Linked DNA regions of Homo sapiens: region 2 is linked to region 1. The links come from fine-mapping of genetic effects on gene expression. Tissue or cell type: breast. Region 1 holds a variant in brackets; the other region holds the start of a gene. All regions are shown on one strand. Distances are between the middles of the regions.

Region 1 (8,184 bases):
ATTCTCTCTTTTGTATTTTTGATAGTGATTACAAAGTTTTTCAGATTTTTATGTTGGCAAGTTAACACTGGAGGTCCAATAGTTTAGTGAAGTTGTTTTGAGACTCTTGCTAATGGTTTAGGAAGTAGAAATGCTTGGGGATAAAATTGACTTCTATACATTACCAGTAAATCTAGATGTACTTTAAAGAGCTTAAAAAATTGTTTACATTACACAAGGTAAGTATCACTATGGGTTTTTTTGTTTACAGACCGCAGGTTTACTTAATAGTTTTCAGTAGACTATCAAGAGATGCATGATAAAGACATTTCCCCATGTAGTTTTCAAATTTTATACTCAAGTCCTTATATTCGATTACAGGCATGAGCCACTGCACCCAGCCTCAATTGTTTAAAATTCAGTTTTCTTTACCTGAAGATATGAATGTATGAATTATTAGAGTGGTTATTTAGGAGGAAAAGCGTGTAAAGTTAAGTTTTTAGAATTTAGACTGTTTGAAACTCTGAATTCATGTCAGTCAGTAGCCATTTTAAAACCCTACAATGACTTCATGTTCCTTGCTTTAATATTTCCATTGTAGTGACTAAATATTGGAGCCAAAATTCCATTAGTTCAATTTATTTTAAAAGTTTCTGATTTGTATATCTGTACAGATAAGAATCTTAATTGAATGACAGTAACTACAAGTTTTATACCTGTGGCAAATACTGTATTAGCATCTATAGATTTAGGGCAATCTTTAAGAAAAAATGGAATGGTCAGAGTCTAAGTTATTTCATCACTGTACTTTGGTTAATGTGAACTATGATTCATATATTTTATCCTTTCAAACTGAAATTACCTGCTAGAGTGAGCAACCATCTCACCACTGTGGCTCTTTAGCTTTTCCCATATGTAATCTAGAGGTACTGGAATAATAAGAACACAAAATCATAATGAAGGCTGCCAAAGATTATAATTTTTTATTAAGATCTCGAGTAACTCCCTGTAAGCTCACTGTGGTAAATAGATTTGGTTCTAATACCACAATTCCTCAAAGCTCTATGTTCTTAACGGTGCTGTCTTAATAGAAATAAAATGTAAACCATGTGTGATTTTATCTTTTCTAGTAAGCACATTTAAAAATAATTGGAAACAGATGATTCTTTTTTTTGAGACAGAGTCTCACTCTGTCGCCCAGGCTGGAGTGCAGTGGCACAATCTCAGCTCACTGCAGCCTCCTCCTCCTGGGTTCAAGCAATTCTCCTGCCTCAGCCTCCCAAGTAGCTGGGACTACAGGTGCGCACCACCATGCCTGGCTAATTTTTGTATTTTTAGTAGGCAGGGTTTTGCCACACTGGCCAGGCTGGTCTCGAACTCCTGACCTCAGGTGACCTGCCCACCCTGGCCTCTCAAAGTGCTGGGATTAGAGGCGTGAGCCACTGCGCCTGGCCAAGATTCATTTTAATTGTGTATTTTTCTTTAACCCAATATTTCCAATGTTAACATTTCAACATGTAATCAATACAAAAAATTAGGAGATATTTAACCTTTTATTGTCCTTTAGAGCACATCTCAATTTGGACTAACCATATTTCAAATGCTCAACAGCTACATATGGGTAGTGGCTACTGCACTGGACATCGAAGTTCTAGAACTCTCTCTTACAAATGAACACTATCACTGTCGTTGAAAACTTTCTTGAGATAGTTTATTTTATACAAACAAACTGTATTTCTTATTATTCCTGAAATATCTCATATTGGCATCCTGCCATTTCATTGTAGTGCCTATCATTTTTCCATTGATACTGATAAAGTTGCCTAAGACACAACTTCCTACATAGAGGAAATAAGAGGAACAAACCCCTTTTGGACAGAATCTATTAAAACTCATTCCACTATCCCTATGTACATAAATAACATTGCCTCTGCTGAGTGGAATTTGCATTCGTTACTTCAAAATTCAGACTCATCTACCTTTCCAAGTTAGACAGTTGGGGAAAGAACTTCCTAAATCTTAAGGTTGAAGGCAGAGGGCTCAACCCCACTCCAGATTCAGGCAAGGGGAATAGGAAAGAAAGTGCGAGATAAGAGCATGGTGGCCTCTTGGGGTCCCTTGATGGGGGCTGTTGGGAAGTGGAAGGCATTCTTTTAAGGGGATAAGAAGCAAATGGAAGACTTGCTCCAACTCTAGAGTTTTCAGAGAGTTAGAGGAGGTGGAGAGATTTACTCCTGCCATGGATCATATGCATTTCTACCATCAACTCCTGGTTTTGCAGTATTTTTATAAATGGAGTTTGGACCTTGGTGACACTCAGCCTCTCTTCCCCTTTTCCTATGTTGCTCAATCTTCCTTTCCCTCCTAGGTTCTTACACATTTCAAACCCTTGCCAATAACAGTATTTTAGTTATCAGGTCTCACCATTCCCTCTGGTTGTTGAGCCTTTGGATAAAAATCCACATGGCTATGGAGTGGGTTTTGTTGGAAAAAGTGACCGTCCTCTAACTGCACCTCTATTTCTGGCTCCTCAAACAGCAAAGGGTAATAATAAGGCATGGTAGAGGTTTTCCCATTTTTCAGTGACTAGACTGTGAATATTTACAGATGAATTTTCTATTATTAATGTTATTGTGGTTGTTTTAAAATAAAAGTTCTGAATGTATATATGACCAAAACAAACAAACAAAAAGAGCACAGTGAACTCAAATCATATTCCATTACAATAGTCCCAGGACTTCATTAGACAGACTCCCAGTAATTAAGCCTCCAATCTTAAAATGTTAAACATTTCAACATGTATTGACTAATTCCTGTAAAATACAGAAAGTGCAACATCACCAAACGTGCATTTCCCAGGATTCATTTTAGAATTCTCATGAAAATTTAATAATAGTATTTCAGTTAATTATGGCATTTGAGAAAAAGATACTAATGGGGAAAGATCACATACATGCTTTGGGTGATACGTTAAAAAAACCTACAATAATTAGTAGTATTGCCTTAACATTTCTAAAATCACATAAAAATGATCATCTTTGATTGCCATTTCAGTAATTTTGAATACAGGGTATGTTATTTTCTGCTCACTAGTAATCAAAACACATAAAACAGACTTGTAACAAATATTCAGAGTCGATTATTTTCATAAGCTAAACAGTTCCGATACTTTAAGATTTGTGTTTGAGCATACAGTACTGCAATGTTGGCTACATAAAATAAAAAAATCTTTTTAAGAGGAAGCTCAATAATCAGAGGCTGTATTGCATTTAAGGATTTAACACTGGCTATATACAAAAGGGAAAGCATTTCAATGAGAAATACTTCACGTTACCAAGTTCTCTCCTTTAATATGGCAACATTCAGCAGCTTATGCTACTCTTTTATCCTTTGGTTCCCAGTGACAAACAATGCAGTAATAATGCCTCTGGTTTTAGTTCCTCTTGGATGACATTTATTAGCAGAGAGAGAGACCTGATGCTTTAGCTGAAATTTGGCAGCCCAAGAAGTGCACCAACTGCTCCAAAGTAACCCTGTGTAATTTAAAAATAACTGTTATGTAGTACAGCTTTTAAGTTAGCATATAATATTAACCACTTGAGAACACACAACTATGCACAATCTATTTGTTTAATAATATTTGGAAACCTACCAATTTCTGCGTTGTTAGCTATTATAAAAAATTTTCTGAATCTGTATTCTTGATGTCTACACACCTTTGAAATATGTATTTTTATTTATTATTATTATTTTTAGAGACATGGTCTCACTATTTTGCCCAGGCTGGCCTTGAATTCCTGGGCTCACATGGTCCTCCCATCTCAGCCTCTTGAATAGCTGGGACTATAGGCTCACACTGAAATACGTATTCTAAAAGTGTGGCCTTTAGACACTAAAGCTTCCAGGACTGTAACAGCAATTCTGCACCCTCTCCCCTTTACTTAATAAAACAAACTAACTTCCTGTGGCTGTGCCTGACACTCTCACTGCATGCCATGTGGAATTGCACAAGGGCACACCATTCTGATTTGTATTGTGTGAGCAGTGACAATGAGACATGGAAGCTTTTTTTTTTTTTTTTTTTTAGACAGTCTCGCTATCACCCAGGCTGGAGTGGCTGGAGTGCAGTGGCGCCATCTCGACTCACTGCAGGCTCCGCCCCCTGGGGTTCACACCATTCTCCTGCCTCAGCCTCCCGAGTCGCTGGGATTACAGGCGCCCGCCACCTCGCCCGGCTAATTTTTTTTTGTATTTTTAGTAGAGACGGGGTTTCACCGTTGTTAGCCAGGATGGTCTTGATCTCCTGACCTCGTGATCCGTCCGCCTTGGCCTCCCAAAGTGCTGGGATTACAGGCATGAGCCACCGCACCCGGCCAAGACATGGAAGCTTTTAAGAGCAGAATAATTTGAATCTCTGTTACTAATTTGTAATGATACAGCCATTTGACTTTGATCACAAAATGATTCAAGTTAAGTTAATCCAAAACATTATGTGGACTGATAATTGCTCAGATCAGAACTTAACTGCATGTAGTAAATGAATACAAAAAAATCTGGGGGTGCCTAACAGGTTATTGTAATTCTCTTCCCCACAACTGAAACTGAAGCGAAGGAACCAATATTCTACTACTTAAGGCTGGGCATGGTGGCTCACACCTATAAAGGATTGCTTGAGGCCAGGAGTTCCAGACTAGCCTGGGCAACAAAGAGTGATCCTGTCTCCACAAAAAATATTAATAAAAATAAATTTTCTGGGCACAGTGGTGCATACCTGTGGTCCCAGCTACTTGGGAGGCTGAGGTGGGAGGATTGATGAGCCCAGGAGGAAGAGGCTGCAGTAAGCCATCATTGTGCCACTAAACTCAAGCCTGAGTGACAGAGCAAGACCCTGTCTCTTAAAAAACATGCTATTAAAATTCACAAAAAACATTTTCCTACCATACCTCATGTTCTAGAAACAATGCTTTTAGTTGACCTTTTGACCAGTAATCCAGTGCATATGCCAAAAGTTTCATTGAGAGGGTATTGACACGTAAAAAGTTTCCAACAAAGACAACTCTGTTTATTTTCTAAAAGAAAAGAACAAAGAAAAAACTTGTAAAAATAATAGATTTTACAATATAAAAGGTTTCTAAATATTTATTTAAAATTTATTTTAAAATGCAAAAAAACACAACTAC[G/C]CTTTATTAGTATAACACCTACTACATTCCTGGCATATAGCTGTATAATCCTGAATATTTAAAAATTAGTTCTGCACACATCATCCAAAATCCACAAAATGTGTAACACCAAGAGAGAACCCTAAATTATGGACTTTGGGTGATGATGATGTGTGCACAGGGTTATGGACTGTAACACATGATCACTCTACTATGGGATGCTGAGGATGGAAGTGGGCTGTGTGTGTATGGAAGGTGGTATATGGGAACTCACTGAGCTTTCCACTTAATTTTACGTGAACCTGAAACTGATCTAAAAAATAAAGTCTACTTTTAAAAAAAGGTTCCAGAAAGACTCTAGCAGATGATTTCAGGTGAGATTTGTTTTTGAAAATGGCCAATAAATAGCCCCCTTACAAAGTCATTTGGAGACACATTACTGATGTGATTAAAAAAAAAAATCAAAACATGGTAAGTACTATAAAATGCATTTAGTTGATAAGTAGCAAACTTGGCCCACACATTGCAATGCATGTTGAACAATGACATGCAACTGTGGATTCTACAGAATTGGAGAGTAATACTGACTGGGGTACTGGCATGTGCATTCCCCTAGGATTCTAGCATTCTTTCTCCGTCCCCTGCCTGATTCATCAAATCATTCTCTCTCTGCAAAGATTCCACACTAATTTGGTTTCTTAGATTATCTCTATGATTAGGAAATCTTACAAAGGGGAACTGGTGTTTGAATCACCAGAAAACTTATTTCGACTCTCACACTATACTGACTTTTGAGTAGAAATCTTTGTACATAAGTTGGGATACTGTAAACCATGGCCTAAATTATTGTTAACTCAATTGGTCAGTGGAAATTTAGACATAAAGGGCTAAGAATAAAGGTCTCAAATTGTTGTCAGCTCCCAACATGGTCTACTAGTAACTCCATCAACCAACTAACACTTAAGTTTCTAAGTTATTAAAAAACTGATGAGACCAAGTTCTGGATTTAAATACAGAATAATTCAGAGGATTTGCATATTTGTTCTCTCTGCTGGAAGCTTTCTCCCCAAAATGTCTACATGCACAGTTTCCCCCTCACCTCCTTCAAACCTCTGCCTAAGAATCACATTTTCAATAAAGCTTTCCTTTAACCACTCAATTACTTAGCAATTTGTCCTCTACCACTCTCTGCCCTATTCCCAATCCTCTTTATCCTGTTTGATGGTCTCTTTTTAAAAAAATAGCACTTATCACCTAATACACACTACACAATTTACTTAATATGTCACTAGAATGAATGCAAGCTCCACAAAGCCAGATCTTTGTTTTCTTCATTAATATGTTCCAAATACCCAGAACGATGTCTGGCATCTGGTAATCAGTAAATATTTACTCAATGAATAAATGAATGAATGAACAAATGAAGGGTTCCTTCGAAAAGCGTACTTCCCAATCCATTTAAAGTATTTGATATTTATAAAAATTAAACGGGCAAATATATCTATTATTATATAAGGAAGCTAGAATTAAATATATATATTCTCTTCCAAACAAAGAATCCCAACTATATGGTCAATCTAACAGTATATCCTTTTCACACTTTTCTTGTAACAATAAACACCACTCAAATATCATGAAGAACAGGTCTCAATGCCTTCATAGCCCTGTACAATGCTGCTTGATCCATATGCAACAAGGCAGCACTGTAAAGAAGCCGAGGGCAGTAAGAAAACTTCCAAGAATTTCACTAATCAAATGCAACATTAAGCACTGGTGGTATAGTGGTGAGCATAGCTGCCTTCCAAATGCAAAATTAAGACTAAAAAAAATGCTTTCACAAAGTATCTCAAAATGTCTTATGCTTAGAACTTTCTTTTACATCCTCAAGGGATTTAGGTTGTGTTTTTCTGAAAAAAAATTCTGAATAAATTTCTCCTATTTCAATTTGAATTATCTGCTACTTTCTTTAAAAGTAATATAGCAACTGGATACGTAACATATATACCTAATGAGTCTTGGCATTTAATGGGTTACATCTCAATCCCAGAGGCCTCCTTAGGGAAAGTGAAGAAGCCCTGCTAGGTGTATATAGGACTCCAATTCACATTTTTGATAATTCAAGTTTTGTGTTTTTTGTTTTTTTACCTCATTAACAGCACACATTCGTGCCACAGAACCAATGTTATTGGTGATAGTAACTAAAGTAGCTCTTGCCAGATCTTCTTTACTAACAGATTCTCGCTTCTCCTTATAAATCATATTCCCAAAACTGCAGAAAAATGAAAAATAAAGTCAAATCTGCTGATAAAAAGCAACATTTTACGTATTAACAGATATATCTACAACCTGGATATTTTTATAAAATTAGGACCAAAAAGTAGAAACACATAGGGATAAGATCAAAACAAACTAACAAAAAAAATCTATGCAAGAGTAAAGTAATACCTTTCAAAGAATTAAGGTTAAAATGACATCTCAAAAAAAGCATAGTTAGTTATTATAAGAAAGCAAAGATTACCAAAATATCTTCACTTAAACCTGATTCAAAACAAATTAGCCAAAATTACAAAATGTTTCCAAAAGTATCTCAGCTTTAACTTCAAATTCTTTTTCATTCAGTCACAAGAAACATTTATGACATACCAAGCTTTGTGCTGGAGACAGATAGTCCCTCAAACAGTGAATTAGTCTAGTGCAGCACTGTCCAATAGAAATAAAATACGAGTAATATATAATTTCATATATGTTCTATTAGCCACATTAAAAAGGTAAAAATAAACAAGTGAAATTAATTTTAATTGTACATTTCATTTAAGCCAATATATCCAAATATCATCAATTCAACATGTGGCACTCATAAGCCAAGTGCCTTACGTGGCTAGAGGCTACTGTAATGGACAATGCAGGCCTACATACAAAAGACAGCAAGAGAAGCGCTAACAGTAACAGGGAAAAAATCCAAACAAAGGCTAACCCCAAACAAAGGCTAACCTTGGAAATACAAACAAAAAAATATCTTTTATTACAGTGGTAAGAGAAAAAAGTT
Region 2 (8,184 bases), 150 kb after region 1:
CCACCTGAGCTCCGCCTCCTTTCAGGTCAGCCGTGGCGTTAGATTCTCATAGGAGCACACACCCTACTGTGAACTGTGCATGCGAGGGATCTAGGTTGCACGCTCCTTATGAGAATCTAACTAATACCTGATGATCTGAGGTGGTACAGTTTCATCCTGAGACCATGCCCACCACCCTAGTTCCGTGGAAAAACTGTCTTCCATGAAACTGGTCCCTGGTGCCAAAAAGGTTGGGAATCAACCTTTAAAAGACACTGGGGGCTGGGCGCAGTGCCTCACGCCTATAATCCCAGCACTTTGGGAGGCCAGCGTGGGCGGATCACAAGGTCAAGAGATTGAGAACATCCTGGCCAACATGGTGAAACCCTGTATCTACTAAAAATACAAAAATTAGCTGGGCGTGGTGGTGGGCATCCCAGCTACTCAGGAGTCTGAGGCAGGAGAATTGCTTGAACCCAGGAAGCAGAGGTTGCAGTGAGCCGAGATTATGCCACTGCACTCCAGCCTGGCAACGGAGTGAGACTCTGTCTCCAAAAAAAAAAAAAAAAAAAAAAAAAAGACACTGGGAACAGCTGCCCTCATTGGAAACCTCTTTCTGAGATCGCACGAGGAATGCTGCTAAGTCCTTACTTCTCAAAGCGTGCTCCTTGGACTAGTGGCACTGGCATGTCCTGGGAGCTGATTAAAAAAAAAAAATGCACACTCTCAGGCCTGACCTCGGATCTAATGAACTAGAACTTGCATTTTAATAAGCTCTCCAGTGATTCTTATGCACACAAAAGTTTGAGAAGCACTGTTCTGAGACATTGAACATATGTGCCTGAAACTAAATGGCTGAAAAAGAATCAGCCAACAGATATATTTTTTCCCCAAATCTTAACATAATGGCAAAATACTGACCCTTTGTGAAGTATCTACTGAATCCTGGCACTGAGGTAGGCAAAGTACACACACAGCCCCTTTTCATCCTTCCAACAGCCCTGCACATGAGTATGAGTATTCTCAGTTACAGGTGGGGAAAGTGAGGCTTAGGGAGAATCTGACTTGGAGTGGTTGTGAGTGTAGAGACTTTGTTGCAAGAGATAGCTGAGCTCTGGTTGTAGCTCATGCACTTCCTAAGTGTGAGAGCTTGGGTAAATTATTTCATCTTTCTGAACCTTAGTTGTTTCATCTATTAAAAGACGATAATAAAACTTATTTCACAAGGTGATTAAGAGTACTACAAGAGATAATGTGTTTAAACTGCTTCACAAAGGCCTGGCATTATAGTAGATTAAGAGTAGCTGCTACCAAATGTTACACAGTGATTCCTGTGCTTTTTTATAATATTGTGGCTTCCCAAGGTCACTCAGCTAGTCAATGGGAAAATGGAGATACCTGGAAAGAGGTAAATGCCTGAACTTTGAGCTTGGTTTTGTGGGTATCTGGGGATTTCTGTTAGCCACTCATGCAGAACTACCATCTTAGTCGCTCTGTTTGGGCGGGCTCTAACCCCGGCAAGAAGGAAAGCAGGGACATAGCACAGAGAATTTGATGCAACCCTCAGTTAAAGGATCCCTTGGGTTCAACCTCCTCCATTTTACAGCTGAGGAAACTGAGGTGAGGAGAAGAGCGAGTTCTGTCCAAGGTCATGCATCACATAGGCACAGGCTCCAGAGGGTCCTGCTTGGTGTTCTTCCCATGGCTACACTCTACTTGTCTCTAACCTGGAAATTCAGACAGGTCCTAAATAGTCAGGGATCTTCCACCTTAGCCCCTGCAATCACTGCACTTGCCAACAGGCAGTGAGTGCAGTGGCCAGGAGCACAGCTTCTAGAGTCAGTTGGTTCTGAGCTTTGAATCCCAACTCCCTTACCTACCATGCTCAGTTTCTTCAACTGTAAAATGAGGGTCATTTTAGGAACTGTATTCTAGGGCTCTGATGAGGAGTATGCAAGATAATACATGTACCTTATTTAGTCTACTGTCAGTACATAGTAGATACTCAATAAATGCTGGCTCTTATGTTACTGTTATTATCATAGTTATCATCATCATCACCACCATCTGTACCATTAGCACCATTACCATCATCAACACCATCACCATTGTCACCTTTGTCATCATCACCGATACCATCACCATCATCACCTTCACCATCATCATCTTCACCATCACCATCAACATCATGCACCCTAGACCTGCCTGGGCTCAACACTTTCCTCAAGATCAAAATCTCTGTTCACATTCTTCTAAAATTGACATGATGTTCAGAATCTTGAGAACAAAGTTCAAACAAGTGGCCTTATCCTGCAGTAGCTCTGAAGATACTCTCTTTGCTCTGACACTGACGGTCAGGTCATGCTTCATAGTACAGTCAAGTGTAGCTGGAAGAAGCCTGGACTTCAAACCCAGCTCTACTACTTTCAGACTCAGGCCAGTTTTAAAGAGAAGGAAGCAAGAATCAGAATGTGAAACAGTTTACCTTATCTTTAGAATGGGGATGATACTACCCATCTCATAAGCTGATTATAAAAATCAGAGAAGAAAATAAATGCATAAGCTCCAGATGAGTGCCTGGCCTTTATTGATGATTCAAAAGAGAACTATACTATGTATGGAATTGAGAATGTTACAAATGCAGTCACAGTTCTAGGAGAATGACTGAAGTTTCTTGGCAGTTCACAGTGCCATAGACTGATAATCCTGGATCAAACTAGCAACATACCACCTGTTACTGATGGCCTATTCCACACCCAGGTATGAGGGACCACCATGCAAGGGTAAAGGTGAAAGGCAGCAGTATGCCAGCTTATTGAGTGCTCACTGAATGCCAGGTATCATCCTAGTGTATTGCGTACATTACTGTACATTTGATTCTTACGGCAAACCTATGAGACAGGTCCTAGTTTGCAGCTGGGAAGACAGATGAAATTACTAGCAATGGCTACACAGCTAGTAAATGACAAAGCTGGAATCCACACCTGCTTCTCTGTGTAATTGCACAGTCTGAATTTTCTCTGCTGAATCCATACAAGGGAGTTTGAGAGGATCCACACATCCTGAGTATGTCTGCTGTTAATCTCTATTCTCCCCTCCTATTATTTTTTTTGTGTGTGTGGGTGCCCTGTGACTGAATTTATAACATTCTCAATTCCATACATAGTATAGTTCTCTTTTGAATCATCAGTAAAGGCCAGGCACTCATCTGGACCTTATGCATTTAGTCTCTTCTCTGATTTTTATAATCAGCTTATGAAATGACGGTGTATGGGTCTGGGACTCAGTGGTAAGTTTAAGACTTTGGAGGTGGCTGGCTTCAAAGGGAATCCTTTGGCTCTCTTGTCCCAGGCCCATAGGTGGCACTCTGACACCATCTGCTAGAAGCACAGCCATCGTCTAGAAATACATCAGGTAGTCCCATTCCCCAGAATGAGGCTGCCTCTAAGCCTGTCACTACGCACACACAATCCCACTGGGGGCAGAGACCTGGGGATGCCAGCTCACTCTCACTCCACCTGCATCAGATGTGTGCATTAGACAGGCTGTGGGGCTGTCCTGAAACTCTGCGCTTGCCCAGTGCCTTTGGATGGGTGCCCTGGGAAGGCTGGAAGCTGGGCGGGCCCTGCAGAAGAGGATGGAGCCACAGCTTTGCTGATTCCAGTGAAGCCCAAGGAAGGGCTCAGCTATCCAGGAAACCCTCCAGGGGAAAAGGATTGGGTTCTGGAATCACAAAGCCCAGGGTCTTAATCACAGCTCTACTGCTTACAAGCTTCGGACATTGAGTTGAACTCTTGACAGTCTGAGGCCCAGTCTCCATATCCGTAAAAAGGGAATAATGAGGCCTTCTTAGGTTTGCTGGGGGTGTTTGAACAGGTGAGTAAAATGCCAAGCACAGTACTTGGCACAGTCTGTACTCGGTAGGTGCTGGTGAGAGGCACATGGTCGATATCCACAGGGGTCAGCAGAGGGGCATGACACCGTGCTCTGGGTGAAAGAAGGAAGGACTGTCTTGGAGGTAGTCTGGGAGGACAGAGGGGAGAACTGGGATCTCATCCTCTTGCTGGCTGATCTTAGCCGATCAACCTTTTGGGTGAGTTTGCAGCCCCTAGGCCTTTCAATCCCCAATCCCTATATTTACATCAAGCTGGAACCAGCACTTTCAAGGCTGGTTGCTCTGAGGGTGGGGTTTGGCAGGGGCATGGTGGGGTGGAGGTTCTGGAAATCCCTTTAGAAGGGAAATTGGGAGAGTGGGCTCAAGGGATGCCTCTACTTGGAAACACTTTTTCTCTGAGACTTAATTTCTCCATGTTTCACAAAGAAAATACAAATGTTACATTTCCTCTTTCTCTCTGGACATCCTTGTCAAGACCATATGGGGGCCTCTCTGACTGGCAGCTCCCGCTAGTTCAGAGAACAGTGTTACTGGCAAATGCTGCTTTGGAGTGGTGACCTGTGCGATGGACTCATCCAGGCTGTCCCTTGGAGAAGGGAGGGTACGCAGGGCATGGTGCCCCTCTCTAGGGCCAGGGCTGAAGGAGGAGCCTGAGGCATGAACACGGGGGGGCAGGGCCTCCAGCATACCTTGTAGCTGTAGGGGCAGGCACAGCGGTACAGCTCCACAGGGTCCTGGGTGCATGTCCCGTTATTCTTGCACGGGCTGGAGAGGCAGGCATTGCATTTGGCCACAATGTTGATGTCCACTGGCCCTGGGCAGCAAAACCAGAGTACTGATGGCAGGTCCTGAGTGCGCTCACTGCCATACCTCCCTTCCCCTCTGCTCTGGGCCCTCCCTCAGCCAGCGCCAGCCCCTTCCCAACTCCATGCCCAGATGGCAGCTGGCTCTCCTCAGCCAGCACATCCAGTCCAGCTAGAGTCCCATTAATTCAGCCACTGTCCAGTGAGGAAAAATCACAGTGGGACATCATTCAGAAACACTTCTGCAGTCAAATCAATTACTGTAATTAGCCTGATCCGATTTTGGTGCTAATCTGCAAACAATGCACCATAATTAGAAACCCCCTGTGTATCTTTTCATATTCCAGGAAGCTCTGGGCCCAGGCTCCATTCGGACCTCCCATTTTTCTACCCACAAACACCCCTCCCCATGGAATAGTCTGTGCCAGGCTAAGCAGGGCACAGTGCTTGGGCCAAAGGCACACAGAGGAAGTCCCCCCTGGAAAACCTTGGAAGAAAGAAATGGATGGCCCCAGAGGACACAGCGATGATGCTGACAATGGACAGAAAACTGCTCAGGTACATGTTACGTCTGTGACCGTTTCAGCCGTGTGCTTGCTTTAGCTGCGAGCACTGGAGGGAGGTCAGGGTCCTTCCCAGAGCTTTGCAAAGGGGGCTGTGTCCTGCTGCTGCAGCCAGCTTTGACAATGAGCCCTGGATAAACAGGCCATATTTAGTGTCAGGACTATAAATGACCTTGGGGTTAACAGTTATCAACTTGGAGATGGGCTGAGATGAACTTCAGTGAGTGACTGTTTGTGGATGAGTAAAAAGAATGGCCTGATTGAGAGCTGGTACCAGGGGCTCAACCCGACTTCACATTAGAAGAGGAAGACTATCTGTCTTGGTTTGCTTGGGGCTGAGGGGGTTTGCAGGACACAGAGCTTTCAGTGCTAAAACCAAGAATGGCCCAGACAAAACCCAGATGACTTAGCTGCCTTACACTACCAGCTACAGTGTTGTTTTCTGTTTGTTTTTTTTTTTTTTTGAGATGGAGTCTCACTCTGTTGCCCAGGCTGGAGTGTGGTGGTGCAATTTCGGCTCACAGCAACCTCCACCTCCTGGATTCAAGCAGTTCTGCCTCAGCCTCCCAAGTAGCTGGGATTACAAGCATGCGCCACCACACCTGGCTAATTTTTGTATTTTTAGTAGAGATGGGGTTTCCCCTTGTTGGGCAGACTGGTCTTGAACTCCTGACCTCAAGTGATCTGCCCGCCTCAGCCTCCCAAAGTACTGGGATTAGAGGCATGAGCCACCGTGCCCGGACCCTGGCTGCAGTGCTTTTAAAAGTCCCCACACCCAGGTTGTACCCCAGACCAATTTAATCTAAACCTAGAGGGTGGAGCCAGGCTTCAGTAATTTTAAAAGCTCCTGTATGATGTCCAAATGTGCAGCCAAGATTGAGACCTATACTGTTCTTGGCCTAGGTGAGCCTCTTTAGTATCAGATCAGATAGCTTAGAAGCAGGAGGAGGAAAATTAAAATTAGCTTTAAGCCAATGGAATGTTTTTCTGCTTGCAGCAGAAGTGTAGGACACACTAAAGTTTGAGAGGGTAATTAAAGTGTATCTATATATCAAAATAAGTATTAAGCCTCTCAGAGATGAGCAAAAGAGATTATCAAACAACTGTGTATACAAATGAAAAGTACGTTTTTGATGAAAAATTCAGGTTCCCCAATAATCAAAGACAAAATAAAAGGAGTTTTTTTTTTTTAACCTATTGAATTAGCAATGAGAAAATAAGAGAAAATAATGAGAGTCTAATGAAAAATGCAACCAAAGGATGCTACTGGGAATGTAAATTGGTTATAACCCTTTTTGAAAATCAATTTGGCAAAATGTGTGAAGACCTTAAAAATAATAATGTACTTTGATTCAGTAATTTCTATTCTCTGAGTCTTATCTGAGGACATGATTTCAAACAGAGAAAGATCTTTATGTGTCAATGGTAAGACAAAAAAATGGAAATACTCGAAAGATTCAAAACCAGAAATGGATTAAGTGGCAGTGGAGTATTATGGCTTGGTGATAAAGACTGCGCATTCTGGAATCAGATGGACCTGGAAGCCTGGTAAGCCTCAATTTTCTCATTTTTAAAAATGAGGATAATATTAAAAGTTGATCACATAGAGGTATTAGAGAATTAAATAAGTTGTTACATGAAGAATGAGAAGAAAATACATGAGACAGTGCTTACCATCATTCCTGTTGCATACAAACTCAGTAGTAGTTTGTTGTTATAATATGATCAATAAAAAAATCACATGTACAAAAGTTTGCTGGATAAAATGGGAAAATGCTTATGTTTTAATAATGTTGGATTAAAAAATGCAGGTTGAAGATTTTTCTCAAGGCCAGGTGCAGTGGCTTATGCCTGTAATCCCAGCATTTTGGGGGGCCAAAACAGGAGGATCGTTGGAGATCAGGAGTTTGAGACCAGCCTGTGCAACATAGTGAGACCTTGTCTCTACAAAAGATGAAAAAAAAAAAAAGATATTCTCCACTATGGAAAGACATGTACAGAAAGAAGTCAGTGAGGAGATGTGTGGCAATGCCAGCAGGGAACTTGGAGAGAATGACACTTGGCCCATTAGATGAGGGTTCACATCAGCGTCAGCATCTGAGCCTCTTTGTGGGACCCATGGAAGAGACAGGGTGAAGGTTTCTGAAGCCACATCTGTTGAGATACCCTGCTCTGACAGGTTGCTGGGAACACAGCAGACCCCAAGAGGGGCAGGGGAGGGTGGGGTGTGGGCGTCACCTACCTTTGCACTGGAAGCGGTGGGTTGGGGTGGTGAGCAGGAGCCTGTCAGCCATGGGCTCAGGGCTACTGCAGCGGGCGATGCCAGGCTCCTTGTACCCCGCCTTCACCCACTCCGACAGCCACCGAAGACTGCAGTCACAGTGGAGTGGGTTGGTTCCCAGCGCCCTAGGAGGCAGAACAGGAAGTCAGGGCCCCCTGCCCAGCTTGGCCAGTAGCCTTCATATCCTTGGCTCTCTGGAAATGCATTTTCAGACTTTGGCTAGACTGGAGGTATCCAATATGGGGCCAGCGGAGTAGTCGTCTCCACTGTGGCAAAGTTAATATCTCCAGAGTGTACTTCCAATCCTGTGGAAGTTTCAACTCCCATCCCAGCCCCTTCCACTTCTGAGGCGTGGCTCTCACCTACGCAAGTAAGACTCACTCTTCAACTCAACCCCATCCTAGCTCCTTTAGGGAGCTTCCTGGATCACTGGCCATCTGATTATCTGGTTCCCTTGCCCTGTTGAAGGGTCCACTGGAGGATATACTCTGCAGAGAAGGTTCTGAAACCCAGCAACCTAGGGAGCAGCTTCAAACCACTTGGCTAGACTTTCATCCCAGTTGTGACTGGGACGAAAATACTAGAAATTCTGTTTTTTTTTTTAAATTATATCCTTTAACAATTCTACTTTTGAAAGTTTTAGAATATGCATACGTAGTATAT

Which allele goes with the higher level. Alleles are on the strand shown, and positions count from the first base shown. SD is a standard deviation of normalised expression in the study named.
For the expression in breast of the gene that starts at base 3,515 in region 2, allele G in region 1 goes with a higher level than allele C (small effect, 0.26 SD a copy in GTEx).

What was found. PIP is the estimated chance that this variant, and not a neighbour inherited with it, causes the effect. A credible set is the group of variants that fine-mapping cannot tell apart.
Region 2: it holds the start of SLIT3-AS2, and the variant in region 1 is the best candidate, but not a certain one, in a credible set for the expression of SLIT3-AS2 in breast (GTEx, PIP 0.70).

Annotation. Positions count from the first base shown.
Region 1 is chr5:168,554,110-168,562,293 of GRCh38, forward strand. PANK3 (pantothenate kinase 3) reads right to left here. Exons shown (of 7, transcript NM_024594.4): 5 at 7,284-7,407; 6 at 4,923-5,048; 7 at 1-3,512. The coding sequence ends at 3,462. MIR103A1 (microRNA 103a-1) reads right to left here and starts at 6,864; the gene lies at 6,787-6,864. MIR103B1 (microRNA 103b-1) reads left to right here and starts at 6,795; the gene lies at 6,795-6,856. The variant G/C (reference allele first, on the strand shown) is at 5,160.
Region 2 is chr5:168,703,413-168,711,596 of GRCh38, forward strand. It overlaps SLIT3-AS2 (SLIT3 antisense RNA 2), which reads left to right and starts at 3,515. Exons shown (of 7, transcript NR_130737.1): 1 at 3,515-3,855; 2 at 5,025-5,235; 3 at 6,643-6,788. SLIT3 (slit guidance ligand 3) reads right to left here. Exons shown (of 36, transcript NM_003062.4): 25 at 7,483-7,646; 26 at 4,564-4,688.